3 linked regions of the Homo sapiens genome follow. The protein of the gene in region 2 binds, or shares a complex with, the protein of the main gene of each other region. Each region holds a gene or a part of one and is shown on either strand. Other genes may lie near its edges.

What was found.
Region 1: RPL13A (region 2) and SYNCRIP share a complex: the UniProt entries of both Homo sapiens proteins name them as parts of the GAIT complex.
Region 3: RPL13A (region 2) and GAPDH share a complex: the UniProt entries of both Homo sapiens proteins name them as parts of the GAIT complex.

What each region holds. Positions count from the first base shown.
Region 1 is NC_000006.12:85,618,835-85,625,908, reverse strand, and holds part of SYNCRIP (heterogeneous nuclear ribonucleoprotein Q), read left to right. Parts: intron 1-1,796; coding exon 1,797-1,932; intron 1,933-3,221; coding exon 3,222-3,427; intron 3,428-6,491; coding exon 6,492-6,641; intron 6,642-6,969; coding exon 6,970-7,074. UniProt on the Homo sapiens protein: Heterogenous nuclear ribonucleoprotein (hnRNP) implicated in mRNA processing mechanisms. Component of the CRD-mediated complex that promotes MYC mRNA stability.
Region 2 is NC_000019.10:49,483,541-49,490,669, forward strand, and holds the start of RPL13A (large ribosomal subunit protein uL13), read left to right. Parts: upstream 1-4,067; 5' UTR 4,068-4,089; coding exon 4,090-4,104; intron 4,105-6,309; coding exon 6,310-6,382; intron 6,383-6,425; exon of another isoform or gene 6,426-6,507; intron 6,508-6,691; coding exon 6,692-6,757; intron 6,758-6,934; coding exon 6,935-7,036; intron 7,037-7,076; exon of another isoform or gene 7,077-7,129. Other genes in the region: FLT3LG (fms-related tyrosine kinase 3 ligand), read left to right, coding at 2,475-2,662. UniProt on the Homo sapiens protein: Associated with ribosomes but is not required for canonical ribosome function and has extra-ribosomal functions.
Region 3 is NC_000012.12:6,529,544-6,537,568, reverse strand, and holds the start of GAPDH (glyceraldehyde-3-phosphate dehydrogenase), read right to left. Parts: upstream 3,053-8,025; 5' UTR 3,000-3,052; exon of another isoform or gene 2,760-2,999; 5' UTR 2,737-2,759; coding exon 2,708-2,736; intron 2,306-2,707; exon of another isoform or gene 2,100-2,305; intron 1,076-2,099; coding exon 976-1,075; intron 886-975; coding exon 779-885; intron 650-778; coding exon 559-649; intron 469-558; coding exon 353-468; intron 261-352; coding exon 179-260; intron 1-178. Other genes in the region: NCAPD2 (condensin complex subunit 1), read right to left, coding at 6,157-6,242, 6,493-6,648, 6,752-6,878, 7,611-7,794, 7,976-8,025. UniProt on the Homo sapiens protein: Has both glyceraldehyde-3-phosphate dehydrogenase and nitrosylase activities, thereby playing a role in glycolysis and nuclear functions, respectively.

The sequences.
Region 1 (7,074 bases), on a different chromosome or scaffold from region 2:
ATCAAGAATGTCAAATGACTTCTGGGGGGCAAAATCACTCCTGTTGAGAACTGTTGGTCTGTGTTAACATGGAGGAGTATTTTGTTGACCCTTTTAGGATTTATGTATTGTAGTATTGGGTGGTTGAACTTAATTTACAGGTATCCAGAGGAGCTTGTATGGTAGAAGTTTCAGGGAAGGAAGGCAATTTCTTCAGAGCCATAGGAGTATAAAAATTGCATGTGGCCCAGCATGGTGGGTCACACCTGTAATCCCAGCACTTTGGGAGGCCGAGGCGAGTGGATCACAAGATCAGGAGTTTGAGACCAGCCTGGCCAACATGGTGAAACCCCGTCTCTACTAAAAATACAAAAAATAGCCGGGCATGGTGGCAGGCGCCTGTAATCACAGCTACTCGGGAGGTAGAGGGAGGAGAATTGCTTGAACCCAGGAGGCGGAGGTTGCAGTGAGCCGAGATAGTGCCACTGCTGCACTCCTGCCTGGGGGACAGAGCAAGACTCTGTCTCAGAAAAGACAAAAAAAAAAAAACCCTGTATGTTTAAGAGTTGATATAAAAAGGTATTTGAGAGAGAGAGGAGAAAGTAGCAGGAGTCATCTTTTTACTTTTTTTAATGTTGTGTCTCTGGCATAAATGTAGAGAAATAGAAGTAAACCTGGGATCAGGAGGGCCACACACTTGAATAGCCTGTACAGAATAGTGGGGTAGAAAGCAATAAATTTTTCTGAACTGGAGGTATGGTATTTGAACTTTATTAAATTTTGATTTTCTGGAGATGGGGAAGGGACAGGGAGGACTCAACTTTCTGACTTACATGTTTTCTTCTGTTATACCCGGTGTACCTAGCAAGGATGGGCATAATAGAAGAATGGTTTCTTTTGCTGTAAGGTATTTCTATAAAGTTGTATGGAAATTGATGTTGGTTCTTTAGTTTGTGTAGCTCCACGTGTAGAATAGATTTTGAGGTTAGGTGTGGGAGGATTAATCAATAATTATTGCCGCTGCTGCCGCCATTATTAGTAACAAATTTTGAGGTGTGGTTTTAACTAACCCATATAATCCACTTTTCTAGATTACTTGGATACTTTTGCACTTGGGTTTGTAAATAATACTAATTGGTGGATTTGTCACTTTGACATGTTGCTTTTTGCCTCTGCTTTCTGATAATCTGGGATATGGTTACTCGAAAATTCAATTTACTTTTTACTGTAGTTTTAAAGTTGTTTCTGTATATTTTTGCCATGACAAATCTACTTCTCTTTCTCCTTCATAATTTGTTATATGCATAATGAAAATGAAATGGGGAAAAAGTACAGTTGGATTTAGAAATAAAAGCTGTTTTTTTAGGCTTAAATATTTGAAGCCTGAAATTTCTTATTACAACTTTTGATAAGAGGAAGGGAAGATGGAAAAATAGATTTAGGTGCTGGTTAACAGAACGGCAGAGATCTTGCTGATCTTGGGATCAGTTTTCCTTGTATGAGAATAACTGGTTGATGGGATGAACTTAAGTAAAAGTTAAGTTTTTGAGGAACTGGCAGTTTTTGAATTTAAGCTGCTGCAGATCTGATTTCTAATTAATCAAGTAAAGGATTTAATAACCTTTTATTTGCATTAAATTGGTTCATGAACTTGTCCAATGGGTCTTGTTAATATAATCTGTTCCTCATAATTCCCTTGTATGGGAATTAAGGTAAACTACTTTTTAAAGGATGATTTGCTCTTGTGTATCTTTTATAATTAACTGTTCTAGTTGTATAAGTAATTTAAAAACATGATGCACTTTTTCCCCTTTCAGTATAATAATCATGAAATTCGTTCTGGAAAACATATTGGTGTCTGCATCTCAGTTGCCAACAATAGGCTTTTTGTGGGCTCTATTCCTAAGAGTAAAACCAAGGAACAGATTCTTGAAGAATTTAGCAAAGTAACAGGTAAGTTGGATTTATTTGGAATGAGGTGCAGCTTTTAATAATGAAGATTAATAGCATATTTCTGTGCGTCATGCATTGTTCTAAATACATTTATTGACTCATCGAATCCTCACTACAACTTTTGAAGTGTAGGTAACCCCATTTTTCAGATAAGAAGAACAGGCATTCAGGGATTTGGGAAATAACTTGCCAAACGTTGTACAAGTTAGTAGGGAATACAGCTAGGGTTTGAATTCATTCTGCAAAATCATTGTTCTTCCTATGTTTTGGAAGATCGTATTTCTTTGTGTGTTCTTTCTCTAGGTGTTAGTTGATGTTCTTAGTAGAATTGTTTGAATAATGATTTGATGTTCTTGAAATTACAGGAGTAGTAAGTATTGCCGTAGCAGAGTGTTTTTTTTTTTTTTTTTTTTTGGAGACAGTCTTGCTTTGTTGCCCAGGCTGGAGTGTGCTGGTGTGATCTTGGCTCCCTGCAGCCTCTGCCTCCCAGATTCAAGGGATTCTCTTGCCTCAGCCTCCTGAGTAGCTGGGATTACAGGCGCGCACCACCACACCTGGCTAATTTTTGCGTCTTTTGTAGAGGTGGGGTTTCACCATATTGGCCAGGCTGGTCTTGTACTCCTGACCTCAAGTGATCTGCTTGCCTCGGCCTCCCAGAGTGTTGCGATTACAGGTATGAGCCACCGTGCCTGGCCCATAAACAGAGTTTATATATTGTCAACATGGTAAAAAAATTTTTTGAACTGTAACAACTTTTAAGTGACAGGTTGCTTTTAGAAAATATTTTGGTCTGCCAACAGTGTCTAACAAATTATCAGCCTGTTATCAACTTTCAGGACATTGGAAATTTTTATGCAGTACTTATAACTTCTATTTTATTTGAAATAAAGCCATTGATATCTAAGGCCAGAAAAGTGCCATTAAAAATAATTTTAGTGTTTGCATAATAAGAAAAATAGCCATATTTGATCTATACTGCCATTTTCTTAGAACAATTATATGAAAATTTTTATCTGCCTCTCTGATCTAATTAGTGAAAACAAAAGTAGTCCTTACCTCTAAAAAGAGCACATGTTCTTTTCTGGAGATTTCTGTGTTGAAAAACTTGGAAACAGATTAGGAAAATAATCCGGACCTAGTTTTTGATAGTCTTTTATAAAGATGTCTAGTGAAGGAAAGAGATGATTTTTCATTTTGATATTTAAGTAGTATCTTAGATAAATCCTTTGATCCACTTGTATTTGCTAGTTATTTCATCTAATTTTCCTGGAATGGTTGCTTACTTGCAGAGGGTCTTACAGACGTCATTTTATACCACCAACCGGATGACAAGAAAAAAAACAGAGGCTTTTGCTTTCTTGAATATGAAGATCACAAAACAGCTGCCCAGGCAAGGCGTAGGTTAATGAGTGGTAAAGTCAAGGTCTGGGGGAATGTTGGAACTGTTGAATGGGCTGATCCTATAGAAGATCCTGATCCTGAGGTTATGGCAAAGGTAATGATAGTCAAGTTAAAAATATTTTTTGAGGGATTAATGGGAGAAGGGCCGGGGTTGGGGTGGGGGGAACATAAAATGAACAGTATACATTTTTTTATTTTTTGAGACAAGAGTCTCTTGTTTCCCATGTTTCCCAGGCTGGAGTGCCATGGTGCCATCTTGGTTCACTGCAACCTCCGCCTCCCGGGTTCAAGTGATTCTCCTGCCTCCCAAGTAGCTGGAATTACAGGCTCCCACCACCACACCTGGCTAATTTTTGTGTTTTTTTTAGTAGAGCTGGGGTTTCACCATGTTGGTCAGACTGGTCTCGAACTCCTGACCTCGGGATCCACCTACCTCGGCCTTCCAAAGTGCTGGGATTTAGAGGCGTGAGGCTATTGCACCTGGCCCTGGACACATTTTTTTTTAAACCATATTTTTAGAGTTGGGAGAAATGTTCTTTACTACGGGACTAGGCAGTGCGCACTGGAAATACCATGTGCCTGCAAAGTGAAAATAGAAATTGATGCGTGGATACTTAGCCATAATTGTATAGCCATCACAATCTTGTAATGAAGTCGCCTACATGCTGTAGACAGTTGACTTCCATTTTGTGTGTTTTTTAAGAGCAATTTGAGTTTTTGAGAATGGCACCATTAGTTTACATGGTTTTGGGGTTAAAAGTCTTACTACTAAAAACAGTAAATTATACTGGCCGCAGCAGAGGTGCTTGCAGTTACATTTAGCCATTATTAGGTATCCTGACTTCAGCAGTCAGTGGAGACATTGTATAAGAATAAACATCCCTTGAGTCAACACTTTATTACACACTGGTGCAGTAATTTGCAGTTATTTGTTCTATCCTTTGTTCTCTTTTTTTTTTTTTTTTTTTAAGTGACAGGGTCTAGATCTGTGGCCCAGGGCTAGAGTTCAGGGGCATGATCATAGCTGACTGTAGCCCCAAGCTCAAGAGATCTTCTCACCTCAGCCTCCCAAGTAGCTAGAACTACAGGTGTGTACTACCACACCTGGCTAATTTTTTTAAAAAATTTTGTAGAGGCAGAGTTAATCTCCCTGTGCTGCCCAGGCCGGTCTTACAATTCTTAGCCTTAAGCAATCCTGCTTCCCAAAATGCTGGGATTACAGGCATGAGCCACCATGCCCCAGTTATCCTTTGTCTTTTAAGAATTCCCTCTTTGTTACTTACAGGTTAGGTGTCAGACACCACTAGTTGAGTTAAATTGAGGGTAATATGAACTGCCAGGGAGCTATGAATATTATTGAAGGATAAGTGGTCTTAGAGAAGAGAAAATAGTTAGGATTCATTTTTCCTCTGGCCTATAAATTCTCATTGGGTTAGCACTTTAGATTAACACATTCAGATGGTATTCAAGTTATTTTAGGAGGAAGTGATAATGTTAGTGAAGAGGTTAAATTTTGTAATTTTACTTTGAGAAGCTTTCAGGATTGAGAACAGTTTGTCTTACTAATATTTTGAACAGTCCTTCCCCCTTTAAGATTTCAAAAGCAGGTCCTAATTAGTTTTGGCCACTCTTGTTAAGTGTTAAACATTCAATAACTCTCTTAGAGGGCATGGTATTTACTTTGTTAGGAAAAATTATCTTTTTTATTGCAAAATAATTACTAATTGGTAATTATTACTGATGTAGCCTGTAGTCTGCATTTTCTTTTTCATAGACTTCATTAGAGCAGTTTTAGGTTTACAGCAGAAAGCACAGAATTGCCATATGACTTCTGCCCCCTACACAGGCACAGCCTTCCTCACTACCAGTATCCTGCACTGGAATAGTACATTTGTTAAAATTGATGGACGTAGATTGATTACCTAAAGTCCATAGTTTACATGAGGTCTCACTCTAGATGTATGTTCTGTGGGTTTGGAGAAATGTATAACCGTGTTTCCATCATAGTATTATACAGAATAGTTTCACTGCCCTAAAAATCCTCTGTCCTGTGCTTAGTCATCCCTCCCCATTCAACCACTGGCAGTCACTGTCTCCATAGTTTTGCCTTCTCAGAATGTTACATAGTTGGAACCATACATTATGTAACCTTCACATTGGCTTCTTTCTCTTAGTAATACATATTTAAAGTTCTTCTATGTCATTTTGTGGCTTTTAACTAGTTTCTATCAGTTATAATATTCCTTCTGTATGTGCCACAATTGTCCATTCTCCCATTGAAGAACATCTTGGTTTCTTCCAATTTTTGGAAATTTTTTTGTTTTTCTTTTGAGACAGAGTCTCGCTGTGTTACCCAGGATGGAGTGCAGTGGCACGATCTCGGCTTACTGCAACCTCTGCCTCTTGGGTTCAACCATTTCTCATGCTTCAGCCTCCCGAGTAGCTGGAACCATAGTTGCGTACCATCGCACCCGGCTAATCTTTGTATTTTTGTAGAGACGGGGTGTTACTGTGTTGGCCAGGCTGGTCTCGAGCTCCTGACCTCAGGTGATCTGCCCGCCTCAGCCTCCCAAATTGCTGGGATTACGGGTGTGAGCCACTGCGTCTGGCAAATTTTTGGCAGTTACAAATAAAGCTGCTATTAACATCTCTCTCTAAGTTTTTGTGTGCATGTAAGTTTTCAACTCTGGGTAAATAAGGAGCAGGATTGCTGGGTCATATGGAAGTGTGTGTTTAGTTTTGTAAGAAATCGCCAAACTGTCTTTCAAAGGGGCTATACCCTTTTGCATTCCCACCAGCAATGAATGAGAGTTTCTATTGCTCTGCATTCTTACCTGCATTTATAGTGTGTTGGATTTTGGCCATTCTAATAGTTTTGACTTGCGGTTTCCGAATGACAGATTATATTGAGCATCTTCATGAGATTCTTTGCCATCTGTATATCTTTTTTGGCAAAGCATCTATTTCAGGTCTTTCAACATGATCCAGCAGTTCTGCTGCTTGATATTTACCCAAGGAGTTGAAAACTTTTTTTTTTTTTATATTCTGACATTCTTCTAATGGATTGTGATTTGAGTTAACTTTGTAGGGTGGGGTGGTGGTATCTTAGAAATGGAACTCTTTGGAAATAATACAGGGGGGTATTTTCTTCCCCCTAGGTAAAAGTGCTGTTTGTACGCAACCTTGCCAATACTGTAACAGAAGAGATTTTAGAAAAGGCATTTAGTCAGTTTGGGAAACTGGAACGAGTGAAGAAGTTAAAAGATTATGCGTTCATTCATTTTGATGAGCGAGATGGTGCTGTCAAGGTAAATATGGTGGAATTACAGGCATCTAAATCAGACTAACAAATTTAGTCATTTTAGAATCTCAAAATAGTTTTACAAATTGGAGGAGACTTTGGAAGTCCATGGAATCCATTCAAACTAAAACCTTTTGGTTTTAGTGATGTTGGCAGTTTTCTAAGTAAAAATGAAAAATAATTGAATATCTGCATCTTTAAATAAAATTATTTGACTGCCTGCATGGGGCTTTCTCTTGTCCTTCCCACATTAATGATAAATGATATTCCAACTTTAAATGAATCATAATTGTATGAAAGTCCTATTTTTATATTGACTTATCTAATTTTTTAAGGCTATGGAAGAAATGAATGGCAAAGACTTGGAGGGAGAAAATATTGAAATTGTTTTTGCCAAGCCACCAGATCAGAAAAGGAAAGAAAGAAAAGCTCAGAGGCAA
Region 2 (7,129 bases):
GTGAAACCCCATCTCTACAAAAAATTTTAAAAAGTAGCTGGGTGTGGTGGCACATGCCTGCAGTCCCAGCTACTTAGGAGGCAAAGTAGGAGGATTGCTTGAGCCCAGGAGGTCGAGGCTGCAGTGAGCCCTGATTGTGCCACTGCACTCCAGCCTGGGTGAGAGAGCAAGACCCTGTCTCAAAAACAAAAAAACCACACAGAAGAGTTTAGAATCCCAGTTGCTATCTCTGGGAATCATCATGATTGCTAAGACCGGTATCTATCCAACAACAACAAAAATAATTAGTGCACTCCAGCCTGGGCAATAGAGGGAGACTCTGTCTCAAAAAAAAAAAAAAAAAAAAAAAAAAGATCAAAGACCAGTATCTAAATTGCTCTGTCGCCCAGGGTGGAGTGCAGTGGCACGATCTCGGCTCACTGCAACCTCCGCCTCCCGGGTTCAAGTGATTCTCCTGCCTCAGCCTCCCCAGTAGCTTGGACTACAGGCGCGTGCCACCACACCCAGCTAATTTTTGTATTTTTAGTAGAGGTAGGGTTTCACTATGTTTGCCAGGATTGTCTCGATCTCTTGACCTCGTGATCTGCCCGCCTCAGCCTCCCAAAGTGCTGGGATTATAGGCGTGAGCCACCACGCCCAGCCTATCTTTTTTTTTTTTTTTAAGAAAAGGTAATACATTGAGCAGTTTTCCTCCCAACCTAGTCCCTGTCCAATCTGTTTCCTGTCTTAAATTTATTTTTTATTATAATTTTTTTTTTTTTTTTTTTTTGTGAGACAGACTTTTGCTCTTGTTAGCCAGGCTGGAGTGCAGTGGTGCTATCTTGACTCACGGCAACCTCCACCTCCCAGGTTCAAGCGATTCTCCTGCCTCAGCCTCTGGAGTAGCTTGGATTACAAGCGCCTGCCACCACGCCCAACTAATTTAGTGTATTTTTAGTAGAGACGGGGTTTCTTTTGTTGTTGTTGTTGTTTTTGAGACGGAGTCTCACTCTATTGCCCAGGCTGGAGTGCAACGGCACGATCTCGGCTCACTGCAACATCTGCCTCCCGGGTTCAAGCGATTCTACTGCCTCAGCCTCCTGAGTAGCTGGGATTACAGGCACACACCACCACACCTGGCTAATTTTTGTATTTTTAGTAGAGATGGGGTTTCACCATATTGGCCAGGCTGATCTCGAACTCCTGACCTCGTGATCTGCCCGCCTTGACCTCCCAAAGTGATAGGATTACAGCCATGAGCCGCCCTGCCCAACTAATACCTGATATTAATTTTATTGTATCTCACCCAGCATGGTGGCTCACACCTGTAACTCCTTGGCAGATCGCTTGAGCCTAAGAGTTCAAGACCAGCTTGGGCAACATGGTGAAACCCCGTCTCTACTAAAAATATAAAAATGAGCTGGGCATGGTGGCGTGCACCCGTAATCCCAGCTAACTCAGGAGGCTGAGGCAGGAAGAATGGCTTGAACCCGGGAGGCAGAGGCTGCAGTGAGCTGAGATCATGCCACTGCATTCCAGCCTGAAACAGAGCAAGACTGTCTCAAAAGAAGTTTAAGTCCAGCCTCAAACTCCTGGACTCAAGTGATCCTCCTGCCTCAGCCTCCTGAGTAGTGCACCGGCCCCATCTCAAGTGTTCAGTATTCACATGTGGCTTGTTACTCCCGTATTAAAGAGCAAAAATAGAGAACGTTTCTTTTTCTTTTTTTTCTTTTTTTTTTTTTTTTTGAGATGGGAGTTTCGCTCTTGTCGCCCAGGCTGGAGTGCAATGGCACGATCTTGGCTCACCGCAACCTCTGCCTCCCAGGTTCAAGCGATTCTCCTGCCTCAGCCTCCCAAGTAGCTGGGATTACAGACATGCACCACCATGCCTAGCAAATTTTGTTTTTGTTTTTGTTTTTTTCTTTTGAGACAGACTTTTGCTTTTATTGCCAAGGCTGGAGTGCAATGGTGCAATCTCGACTCACTGCAACCTCCGCCTCCCGGGTTCAAGCAATTCTCCTGCCTCAGCTAATTTTGTAGTTTTAGTAGAAACGGTTTCTCCATGTTAGCTAGGCTGGTCTCAAACTCCCAACCTCAGGTGATCCGCCCGCCTCGACCTCCTAAAGTGCTGGAATTACAGGCGTGAGCCACTGTGCCTGGCCCTAATTTTGTATTTTTAGTAGAGATGGGGTTTCTCCCTGTTGGTCAGGCTGGTCTCAAACTCCCAACCTAAGGTGATCCACCAGCCTCAGCCTCCCAAACTGCTGGGATTATAGGCATGAGCCACCGCGCCCGGGGAAATATAGGGAACATTTCTATCATGGCCACGTTCTCTTGGACAGCAATGCCCTAGCACATAGTAAGCGCTTGCTGGGAATGGAGTTGTTTTGGGCATAAATCTGTGGCCCGCCCCAAGCTAAGCTACTTTCCCTCTCCTCTCTCAGCGGAGCCTTAAACAACGCAGTGAGACAGACATCTATCATCCCATTTTACAGGGGAGGATACTGAGGCACACAGAGGGGAGTCACCAGCCAGAGGATGCATAGCCTGGACACAGAGGAAGTTGGCTAGAGGCCGGTCCCTTCCTTGGGCCCCTCTCATTCCCTCCCCAGAATGGAGGCAACGCCAGAATCCAGCACCGGCCCCATTTACCCAACTCTGTACAAAGCCCTTGTCCCCATGAAATTGTATATAAATCATCCTTTTCTACCAGCTCTGGCCAGGTCTGTCTATGGATGGGTGTGAATGGGGTAGTTTTGATTTCAGAATCTTGGTTTTTGAATTGCAATGCAATGTTTCATTCAATACGTGTTTTCTGAGGTCCCCTGGAGCCCCGGGCCGGCGCTGGGCAATGTCAGAGCCTGGATTTGAGTCAGAACCAGCCCAGGTGCCCCAGGTCTCCTTGGCTATGGACGAGAAGACAAGGGATTCAGCGAGCCTGGGTGCAGGATGCCATAGGCTACTATGGAGATAAAACAGAGGCAGTGTGAGGGGCAACTCACCCAGGCAGGGAGAGCAGAGAGGCTTTCCAGAGCCAAATGGCATTGCGATGGTGACAAGCCAGATTTGGAGGGGGTGGGGAGGGCATCCTGGGCAAGGGACCCAGCTGAAGCAAAGGCCGACAGTCCAGAAAGTGAGAAGTTCCTCTGAGGAACGCTCAGTGGATTGGTGCAGCCAGGCAACTAGAAGCCATTCCTTGATCCACTCTTAGAGCCCCTGGGGAAGACCACCTCCATCTGTTTTACAGATGGATAAACTGAGGCCCAGATAAGGCCAAGGGTTTCTCCAGGTCACAGTGAAGTCGACCAGACACAGGAATCCAAATCTCTAAGCCTAGAATGGGCAAGGCTCCGGGGCTCACGCCGGTAATCCCAGCACTTTGGGAGGCCGAAACGGGAGGATCGCTTGAGCCCAGGAGTTCGAGATCAGCCTGGCCAACATGTCAGACTCCCCCCGTTCCCGGGCCACAACAAAATATATATATATATATATATTAGCCAGGCATGGTGGCGCGCCCCTGTAGTCCAAGTTACTCGAGAGGCTGAGGCAGGAGGATCCCTTGAGCCCAGGAAGTGGAGGCTGCGGTGAGCCATGATCGCCCCACAGCACTCTGGTGTGGACAACACAGCGAGACCCTGTCTCACAAAATAAAGTAAGCCCGGACTGAGTGCGGAAAGGCGGGCCTGGCGGGTCTGGTCTCCCCATGCGGGCCACCAGAGGCCCTGCAGCCTTCAGTCGCTTGAAGGGGTAATGGCGCTTCCACTCACAAACATGGCGGACAGAGCGTGTGAACGAGATGAACAGCCCCTCAAAAATATGGCCGCCGAGGCTGGACGGCCGTGCCCCAGCAGCACCGCCTCCGCGCCCCACGTGATCTCTCGCCGGGCACAGCGCTGACCGCGGAGGTCCAACCGGAAGAATGTCCGGATTGGACATTCGGAAGAGGGCCCGCCTTCCCTGGGGAATCTCTGCGCACGCGCAGAACGCTTCGACCAATGAAAACACAGGAAGCCGTCCGCGCAACCGCGTTGCGTCACTTCTGCCGCCCCTGTTTCAAGGGATAAGAAACCCTGCGACAAAACCTCCTCCTTTTCCAAGCGGCTGCCGAAGATGGCGGAGGTGCAGGTATGGGCTCCGCGCGGGCCGGGGCGGCAAGGGGCCGGGTGGGATCCAGGCCGGAATGGGGTCGCACCCTCTCTGTCTTGCATGTTTTGCGGAGCTTAACATCCATAATGAAGCAAAATGGAAGTCTTTTGGGATAAGGGGAATCTGTAGGAAATGCCGCGGCTCTCTTTAGGCCTAGGGTTGGCTACAATGTGGCATTTCCTTCTCGAGGCGAGGGTGATAGAGCTTCCAGCACAGGACAGGTATTTTGCAACTAGATTTTGCTTACCTTGAACTCGGGTAGTGGGTGGGGGCCCTGGGGTAGAGTCTTGGCCGAATTGGACCCTTGTGTGTCCTCAGCGATGAGGAACACGCGGAAGTGTGGCCGGGCGGTCTCGGGGCAATGAGAAACTGAGTTTTGGCCAAAATGGAAGGTATTTTTATCCCGCTCAGTGCGCGGGCTACTTTGATTTCACGTGGAGGTGTTAATCGGGGTCCCCTGCAGCTCCGGTTCTTTTAATTCTCAATGCCTTTCTGCGGGGGGTCGAGAGCTGTTGGCTGCGGGGCACTCTGGAATGAACTCGTTTTCCGTCGTTTTGGGGATTGGCGATTGTCCTGAGGCGTGTTACTGGAAGTCGAGAGCTGTGATGAATGGTTCCACAAGGATGGGACATCTTTTGGGCCTGACACCTGGGGGCCCTTTCCCTGGCTCCTGGTGTAGCTACTTAAGTATAAAGGAGGGATTGGCCCTGGAAAGGTTTCTTTGTGAGTAGTCTGTTGTTGGGGCGGGTGACATTTCAGAGCCAGGCCGATCTAGGCAAGTTGTGTTCACCAAGCATGTGTCTTTGTGCCTAGCACAGTTCGCAATGTTTTGCGTAGTTCAGTTAACCATATTCCTGAGGCAGTTACTGGTATCCTTGTTTTACAGAGGAGGAAATTAAATTGGAATTGGTGATTTTGGGCCAAGGTCACGACTTCAGGAAGTCTGTCTGGATTTTAGAGTCTTTGTACCAACGCTTACAAAGCATGTGTAACAACCAGTGTGTGCTTCATGCTTTTGCATTAAAACAATGAGGATTTCTACTTTTAGTGTTTTTTCTGAGACGGAGTCTCGCTGTGACACCCAGGCTGGAGTGCAATGGTGCGATCTTGGCTCATTGCAACCTCTGCTTCCCAAGTTCAAGTGATTCTCCTGCCTCAGCTTCCCGAGTACCTGGGACTGCAGGTGCCTGCCACGACGCTTGGCTAATTTTTGTGTTTTTAGTAGAGACAGGGTTTCACCATATTGGCCAGGATGGTCTCGAACTCCTGACCTCAACTGATCTGCCCACCTAGGCCTCTCAAAGTGCTGGGATTACAGGCGTGAGCCCCTGTGCCCGGCCAGGATTTCTACTCCGGAGGAAGCTGAGGTTCGGTGCCTGAGCAGTTTACCGGGGAAAGCAGAGTGCTCTATAGCAGAGCTAGCATGGGCTTTTGACTACTCTGCCTAATCTCATCCCACCTGAAATTCGGTTTTCTTCCAAATTAAATTTGTGGTAGAAACATCCTATACATTAGAAGAGAATTAGATTGTGTTAACATCCTACAATTGATTGGCCACAGTGGCTCAAGCCTGTAATCCGAGCATTTTGGAAGGCCGAGGCACACGGTTCACTTGAAGCGAGGAGTACAAGAGCAGCCTAGGCAACATGGCAAAACCCTGACTCAACAAAAAAAAAAGTACAAAAATTAGCTGCGTGTGGTGGTGCGCGCCTGTAGTCCCAGCTACTCATGAGGCTGAGGTGGGAGGATAGCTTGATCCTGGGAGGTCACAGGATCACAGGACAGCCTGTGCAACAGCGAGACCCTGTCTCAAAACCAAATCCTACAGTTTATTAGTTACAAGGTCTTGTAACTGGGTAGTCAGTGGGCAGAGCCTTGCTGGTCTTCGTTCAAATCCAATTGCTTTGCAAAATACAATCTGAGCATAAAATACTCATAGAAGAACTCAGATATGAGGGGAGTTTGGGCCTCTTAAACTGCTCACTCACTGATCCTGAGGCAGCCTTGCTTTCTCAGTCCCTGTTCCTCATCTGTAGAACGGGGCTCCGTGCATAGTTCCCAGCTCTGATGGCTGGGTGCAAGGCACGCTGTTGGCACGGTAGGACAAAAGAAGGGAATGCTTGCTTGTGAGGACAATCAAAGGCTGTCCTTGTCTCTGAGTCCTTTTGCCCTTGTCTCCCACAGGTCCTGGTGCTTGATGGTCGAGGCCATCTCCTGGGCCGCCTGGCGGCCATCGTGGCTAAACAGGTACTGCTGGGTAAGTCGCTGCTCGTGGCCCCTCTGTCATGGGCCCCCGCTGGAGGTCAGTGATGAGCAACATTCACCATCTTTCGTTTGAGTCTCACGGCCATGAGATCAACCCCATGCACCGCTCTGAGACCTGCCAGCCACTCTTCCCCAGGGTTGGGGACTCCAGGCTCAAGAAGTAATTATGTATTAGGCTAGTTTTTCATTTAAACAGGAACTTAGCTCTGGCAAGTACTGCGCTGTGTCTGGAGGGTGACTGCATAGGCAGTGGTGGGACCCTCAGGCGGCTCGGCCCTGCTAAGCCTTTCCCTCCCTCTAGGCCGGAAGGTGGTGGTCGTACGCTGTGAAGGCATCAACATTTCTGGCAATTTCTACAGAAACAAGTGTAAGTTAGGACCTGGGAGGAGCACTGGAGAGGGTCTCCCTGTGGGGTGTTGAGGCTCTGAAAGCAATTGCAGCCGTGTTGGGAGAGGCTACTTGGGGTTTCTGAGAAGGCCCTTGGAAGTGGGGTTTTGGGGGTGCTGGTAGACTGGGCAGGCCTCACACTCTCCCCTCTCCCTAGTGAAGTACCTGGCTTTCCTCCGCAAGCGGATGAACACCAACCCTTCCCGAGGCCCCTACCACTTCCGGGCCCCCAGCCGCATCTTCTGGCGGACCGTGCGAGGTGAGCAGAGCGTGGGGACTGCAGGTGGTGACGGGCAGGCGGCCGGTGATGAGAACTTCTCCCACTCACATTCGAGTTTCCCGACCATGAGAT
Region 3 (8,025 bases), on a different chromosome or scaffold from region 2:
GGCCCTGCAGCGTACTCCCCACATCACCCCTCTACCTCCCTCCCCACCTTGAAAGGAAATTATGGGAAAGCCAGTCCCCAGAACCCCCAACCCCAGGGTTGCACGCAGCCCCGGCAGGGAGGAGCCAGTCTTGGATGAGAAAGGTGGGAGCCTCAGTCCCATTCCCCAGCTCTCATACCATGAGTCCTTCCACGATACCAAAGTTGTCATGGATGACCTTGGCCAGGGGTGCTAAGCAGTTGGTGGTGCAGGAGGCATTGCTGCAAAGAAAGAGGGAGCGGGGCGCAAGTCAGGGGAGCGTGTCCATAGGGTGCCAGGCTGGCCGCTTCTCCACGGGCCCTGCCTTCCTCACCTGATGATCTTGAGGCTGTTGTCATACTTCTCATGGTTCACACCCATGACGAACATGGGGGCATCAGCAGAGGGGGCAGAGATGATGACCCTTTTGGCTCCCCCCTGCAAATGAGCCTACAGCAGAGAAGCAGACAGTTATGAACCCGGGTCCTGCCTTTGCAGGGCTGAGTCAGCTTCCCCTCCCGCGGGCCCTCCTGCACTCACCCCAGCCTTCTCCATGGTGGTGAAGACGCCAGTGGACTCCACGACGTACTCAGCGCCAGCATCGCCCCACTTGATTTTGGAGGGATCTCGCCTATGGGGGTGGGGGGGAGATGGGGACAGGACCATATTGAGGGACACAAGGTTACCATATACCCAAGGGAGCCACACCATCCTAGTTGCCTCCCCAAAGCACATTTCTTCCATTCTGTCTTCCACTCACTCCTGGAAGATGGTGATGGGATTTCCATTGATGACAAGCTTCCCGTTCTCAGCCTTGACGGTGCCATGGAATTTGCCATGGGTGGAATCATATTGGAACATGTAAACCTGGGGGAATACGTGAGGGTATGAAGGGGCTGCCCATCAGCCAGGTGGCTCCTCCCACACCAGCTTTGGGGCTCACCATGTAGCACTCACCATGTAGTTGAGGTCAATGAAGGGGTCATTGATGGCAACAATATCCACTTTACCAGAGTTAAAAGCAGCCCTGGTGACCAGGCGCCCAATACGACCAAATCTAAGAGACAAGAGGCAAGAAGGCATGAGGAGGGGAGGCTCCTCCAGAATATGTGAGCAGCCCTAGGCCACCTCCCCATTAAGAGGGCGAATGCAGCATCTCCTTACCCCCAGGAGGGCCCAAGAGGTTGAATTTTATCTCCCTTGAGCTTCCCTGCCAGGCTGGCCTGGCTTAAGGCATGGCTGCAACTGAAGGCTCCAGGGCTGCCCAACACCCCCAGTCATACGAAGCCCTTCCAGGAGAAGCGGCCATGTGGGGCACTGCCACCCACAGTCTGGGCACAAGCTTTGTACATGGTATTCACCACCCCACTATGCCACCCCAGGAATGCTTGCTGCTGCCTAGCTCAGCTGCACCCTTTAGGGAGAAAACGCTTGTACACTCAGCATCATCAAACTCAAAGGGCAGGAGTAAAGGTCAGAAATTAACTGGACAGGGCAAGCCCACCCCTTCTCTAAGTCCCTCCTACAAAAGGGACAGAGACTGGGGCGGGTGGGAAGAGGGGAAGCTGTATTTTAACCCCCTAGTCCCAGGGCTTTGATTTGCCAAGTTGCCTGTCCTTCCTAGCTCTTTTCCAGAAATCAGGAGTGGGAGCACAGGTAAGTGCATGTGTGTGGGGAGAAGGGATGGGAGAGAGCCCCAGCCCAGGCCCCCAGCTACAGAAAGGTCAGCAGCTATATTTAACCTCAGACCAGGGTGCGGTGGGAGATCTGGTTTCCGGAAGACGGAATGGGGAGAAGGGCAGGTTCCCCGAGGCGCCCAGACACCCAATCCTCCCGGTGACATTTACAGCCTGGCCTTTGGGGTCGGGTCAACGCTAGGCTGGCAGGGGAAGGGCGGGGCCGTGAGGTGAGCCGGCGCTGCAGGAAGGGGCCACCACCAGAGGGGCCATTTTGCGGTGGAAATGTCCTTTTCCAACTACCCATGACTCAGCTTCTCCCGGCTTGGCACCATGCCACAGCCACCACACCTCTGCGGGGAGGGGACACAAGAGGACCTCCATAAACCCACTTCTTTGATTTACCAGAGAATAATCTAGGAAAAGCATCACCCGGAGGAGAAATCGGGCCAGCTAGCCTCGCTCCACCTGACTTCCCCGCCACACGCGACTCCACCCATCGAGGCAGGAGCGCAGGGTTAGTCACCGGCAGGCTTTCCTAACGGCTGCCCATTCATTTCCTTCCCGGTTGCAACATGGCGGCCGCTCTACCGCAGGCGCAGCATCCGGACAGGGATGCACCCGCTGCGCACTAGCATCCCGGGGCCTGCGGTGCCGGAGGCCGTGGGGGAGGGGCTCCTCTGCGACACGTGACCCCGCAGAGCGCGAAAGGAAAGAAAGCGTCCCCCACCTAGGGGTCCGGGTCGGGATCTCGGGCGGGAGTAGGGACCTCCTGTTTCTGGGGACTAGGGGAAGGAGGCTCCGGGCAGATGGCGCCGCAAGGGCGGAGCTGCACAGGGCGCCACAGCCTGGGTGCGGGGCTCCGCCAGGTCCGAGCGCTGACCTTGAGCTCTCCTTGCGGGGAACAGCTACCCTGCCCCCATACGACTGCAAAGACCCGGAGCCCGCAAGGCTCGTAGACGCGGTTCGGGGGCGGTCGCAGCCCAGGGCCCCCCAGCCACCCGCGAACTCACCCGTTGACTCCGACCTTCACCTTCCCCATGGTGTCTGAGCGATGTGGCTCGGCTGCGCGGAGGGAGAGAACAGTGAGCGCCTAGTGGCCCCGGCCGACACACACGCCTCCCCTCCCCTCCCCCACCAGGCCTCCATGCCCAGCCCGCGCCGCATCACGTCCTCCGCCCGCCCCTGCAATGCGGAGGCCGCCCGGGCCCACCCCGCAGCGGCGCGAACACATCCGGCCTGCGCCCGCCCCTGCCGCCTTCAGGCCGTCCCTAGCCTCCCGGGTTTCTCTCCGCCCGTCTTCACCTGGCGACGCAAAAGAAGATGCGGCTGACTGTCGAACAGGAGGAGCAGAGAGCGAAGCGGGAGGCTGCGGGCTCAATTTATAGAAACCGGGGGCGCGGCGGCAGGCGGTGACTCGGACCCCGCCTCCCGCCAGGCTCAGCCAGTCCCAGCCCAAGGTCTTGAGGCCTGAGCTACGTGCGCCCGTAAAACCGCTAGTAGCCGGGCCCTACTTTCTCCCCGCTTTTTTTTTTCCGCAGCCGCCTGGTTCAACTGGGCACGCACCGAGCGTGTGGGCCCCGACGTAGGGGGGAAGGGACTGAGATTGGCCCGATGGGAGGTGATCGGTGCTGGTTCCCAGGACTGGACTGTGGGCAGCAGGACACTAGGGAGTCAAGGACGGGGACCCTTACACGCTTGGATGAAACAGGAGGACTTTGGGAACGACTGAGATGGGGAATTGGAGCCGGAGCCCAGCACCGCTCGCGGCTGCACGCGGCCTGCCCCCTCCCCTTTCTTTCTTTCAAAGGCTGAGAGGCGGGAAAGTTGGGGAACTTCTCCTCGAGGCTCTGCGGTAGTGACACCGGACTGCTCAGGCAAAGGCCTAGGAGGGGCCCATGGGCCTCGGGCGGGGGCCCGTGGTTCCTTCCCAGCCCCCACTTCCCCCTCCCCATCTCCTGGCTCCTGGCATCTCTGGGACCGAGGCCTGGGCTGGGCACTGGGCACTGGGCACTGGGGGCCTGGAGAGGAAGGAGGCTCGGGAGGCGGCTTGAGGGGGAGGGGGAGGTTTCTGCACGGAAGGTCACGATGTCCTGCAGCCCTGTAGCCTGGACCTGATAATTAGGGCAGACAATCCCGGCCCTGTGTGCACCAGCGGCTCTCTCCGGGCTGGGGCCCCAGGCGGAGGACAGGATGGCTGGTGGGGGCCCAGAGGCCTCCCACAAAGGCACTCCTGGAAACCTGTGGGCTGTGCTGCCTAGGGAGAGAGACAGTGTGCCTTTCATTCCATCCAGCCTGGGGCGAAGAGCGGGACGTGAGGGCGGAAGTCCCTCCCCGCCCTGGGACGTGCAGGCGAGCCAGGAGCCAGGGACTCCCTTTCACTGGCTGCGCCGGGGGATATTGAGGGCAGGGTGAGTCAAGAAGAGGGAAAAAGTGGGAAAAGAGGTCTTGGGCACACGGTGGGAACAGGTCCCCTGCCCCCTCCCACAGGGGATCCATTCTTCTGGTAGGAGGGCAGAGGGCCAGGTTTGTGAGTGTGGGATGGGAGGGTGCTGAACACTTGTAAGGAAGGGGGTGGGGTGGGGTGGCCTTGGCCCATCAGCAGGTGCATGGGAGGGGGATCCCGGGCCTCTTTGCTGGCCCAGCATAACCTGACACCAGCCCCCTGCCCTTCTAGCTAAAAGCCGGTTGCTAAGTTTAGCCTGCCTGGTGATAATCTTTGCTTAAAAAGCACCCACAGGACTCCAGTCCCTGACCCTGCCTTTCTGGGATTGCCTTTCCTGCTGGGACCCAGAGCCAGGCTGTGTCCTCGTCTGGCTGCCACTGGCATGGTTGGTGCGGGCTTTTCACAATGACCACCCAGAGCAGAGTAGCAAGAGCAAGGCAAGAAGGTCCCTAATGGTGAAAGGGGTGGGGTGGGGGAGTGGAGGAAGCCCCACCTCTGACTCAGCTATTCCTGCAACCAGGACCGTTAACCCTTTCTCATTGAGAGCATTAAGAGCACCTCCATGCTCCTGCACCACCCAAGCGTGATCTTCCCCTCTGCCTCATGCTTGTCATTTTTCATTACTGTCTTCTCCCCGCAAAGAGGGAGCTCAGTGCCCAGGGAGCACTACTGACGTAGTGTGCTGTTGTCATGACAGCAGAGGCACCAGTGTGGTCACGACAGCCAGCTCACAGCCTCCGGTTCGAAGGTGACTCAGCAGAGAAGACTTGAGGAGCTGGAGAGGGGTGCGCAGGCTTCAGGGGGCAGCCCGCCTGCAGCATAGCTCACGCCCTCTGCAGACCCGGGAACAATGAGGAATGCTGGGAGACAGGTCTTGTCTCCTGCAGAGCTGGAGGGGATCATGATCTGAACTTCCACGAGCCTGGGCCGGTCTGCTGCCAACCTTTGGAGATGGGATTAGGGAACACGAGTGGGGGTGGGGTGAGGCACACGGCAGAAAGCAACCCTTGGTCTAGAGCAGGTTTTCTCAACTGTGACGCTATTGACATTGTGGGCCGTGTGATTCTTTGTTGAGGGGCCATCCTGTGCACTGCAGGATGTTGAGCCACATCCCTGGCCTCTTCCCACAAATGCTGGTAGCATTCTTCCCCTATAGGCTATGACAACAAAACAGGCCCCAGGTGTTGTCAGATGTCCTCTGGCAGACAAAATTGCCCCCGGTTCAGAAGCACTGATCTGGAGCCTAGGCACTGCATAATTCTCCCCAGAGAGGCTGTCTGGTCACTGTGCAGGGTCCAGAGGTTGAGAGGGGAAAGGTGGCAGTGACGGGGCAGGAAGCTCATCTGCCATCCCGGGACAGGCCCTAGGACTCTGGGCTCACTCATCTCTCTCTGCACTGATAACCCTCTCTCTGCTGCATGAAACTGGGCTAATGTGAAAGATGAAACAAAGACAAGCTTAGGAAAAAATGTCTAAAAGTATATAAAAACATTTATTCATTAGAAAACAAGGAGATTGGCAAACATATATTCCAAAGTTGAAGCAGCTCAACGCAGTTCAGTTAGGCTAATTTAAGAGAAAGCCTTGCATTTTAAAGAGCGTGTAGGCATTTTTTTTTTAATTTGAGATGGAGGTTCGCTATTGTTGCCCAAGCTGGAGTGCAATGGTGTGATTTCGGCTCACTACAACCTCCGCCTCTGGGTTCAGGCGATTCTCCTGCCTCAGCCTCTTGAGTAGCTGGGATTACAGGCGCACGCCAATACGCCCGGCTAATTTTTTATTTTTAGTAGAGATGGGGTTTCTCCATGTTGGTCAGGCTGGTCTCGAACTCCCTACCTCAGGTTATCCACCCGCCTTGGTATCGCAAAGTGCTGGGATTACAGGCGTGAGCCACAGTGCCCGGCCTTTTTTTTTTTTAAAAAAAAGAGACAGACAAATATTTTACAAGGGAAACAGAATTCGAATTCCAGGTCACCCTACAGGATACCCTGCACAGGGAGGACAGGAACAGACTTCCTAGGATCTGTGCCTGCGAGCCGATGCTCTGAGAATGGGAGTTGTTTTCTTGGGTGTCTCGTCTTCTGTCATCTCTGCTGAAAGATCTATGCAAAGAATTAAAGGAATAAGAAAAAGCTGAGTCACAAAGATGGTGAAAAAATAGATATCAGAGAACAAGTGAGACAATCCCACACCGCACAGAAGAAATAAAATCCAAGCTGTACAGGAGAGGCCCTTCTGCGGCAGTGGGGCAGAGCATCTACACTCAGGCCCCCGCAGCAGGTCCTATGGAAACCAGCCCTCTGCACCCTAGCTGTGTGCCTTCTCGGCCGGGAACAGGCGGGAGCATCATACCTTCCTCACTGGACTCATCACTTGAGAAGACAACTTTGGGTTTCTTTTTGGAAGCTCGCTGCTGGGTGTTTGGATGCCGACGGGTAGTACGGCGGGGCTCTGGTGTGACAAAGTCATTGTCTGAGGCTGTAGAAGCCAGAGGCTGGTACCTAGAACCTAGAAAAGGCAGGAAAACGTGATTTAAAAAAGAAGAAGAAACAAATCACTGCAGGAGGGGAGGGCCCAGTCTGGTCTCGCCCGCACAGGCTGCCTTACGTACCAGTGGATGGTTTCTTGGCTGATGGCGCTCTCTGGCTACCTGCTTGGCCAATCTCAAGCTCCTTGATTCCATCCAAACCTCTGGTATGACAGGCCCGAAGCTTCTGCTCAAATTCATCTATTATAGCCTGGAGGGAGAAAAGGAGATTCAGAGCAGGCCTGAAAACAGTTACTTCTGATTAAAAAGAAACAAGGCCATGGAAGACATGGAGGCCTTAAACGCACATTACTAAGAAGCCAAGGTGAGAAGGCTCCATACCGGATCATTCCAATGATACATTCTGGAAAAGACAAAGTGATGGCAACAGTAAAAAGATCAGGGGTTGTGGGGAGAGAGGGATAAATAGGTGGAGTGCAGGGGATTTGTAAGGCAGTGAAACTCTTCTGTATGATACTGCAATGGTGGGTACATGTCATTACGTGCAGTGAACTCCAAGGTAAACCATGACTTTAGGAGATGATGTGTAAGTGTAGGTTCAGCTGTAACAAATGTGCCACCCTGGTGCAGGATGTTGAAGGTGGGGAAGGCTGTGATGTGTAGGGGCAAGGGGTAGAAGGGAACTCCCTGTACTTTCTGCTCAATTTTGCTTTGAACCTAAAACTGCTCTGAAAAATAAAAACTATTAAAAACAAACAAACAAGAATTGGATGAGATGCTGCTTTGGTTGTGTTTTTGGAGTAATAAAAAAAGAACTGGAGACAAAGATCTGGTCTTAGGTCACTCTGGCAATTTGGTTGCAACCCAGCTGGGGATAAGGAGGACGGGAAGGTGACTGCAAGAGCCGTATGCTGCCCAGGGCCGGCAGATGTCTTAGCCAGCCCAGAACCCAACAGGCATTGAAGTGTCCTGTGCTGCTCACCTTGCCCTCAGGCTTGGCCCCACGTCGCAGCTTGCCTACAACTGACAAAAAAGCACTGAAGATGGACTCATCTGACAGTTTGTCTCCAAAACAGTCAAAATTGTCAAGCATCTTACGGAGGCCTCGCTCTGTGAGGGGCAGCTGTGACACACAGTAGGCCAGGTCTCGCTGCTGCCGCTCAGTTCTGCAGATAGGAAGGGCTTTGTGAGGAACTGGGAGATCCAGCTAGTAAAGGCTCAACCTTCCCCATCAGCCTCCCCAGTCCCAGGGATGCCACAGTGGGGGCATTGAAGGGGTGAGGGATGGGCCTTTCTCCCCTGCAGGGCCCCGCTCAGCACAAAGAACCCTCAGGGAGGGCAGCATACCGGGATGTGCGGAACCGCTGACACAGCTTTTCCACCAGGCTCTCTGTCTG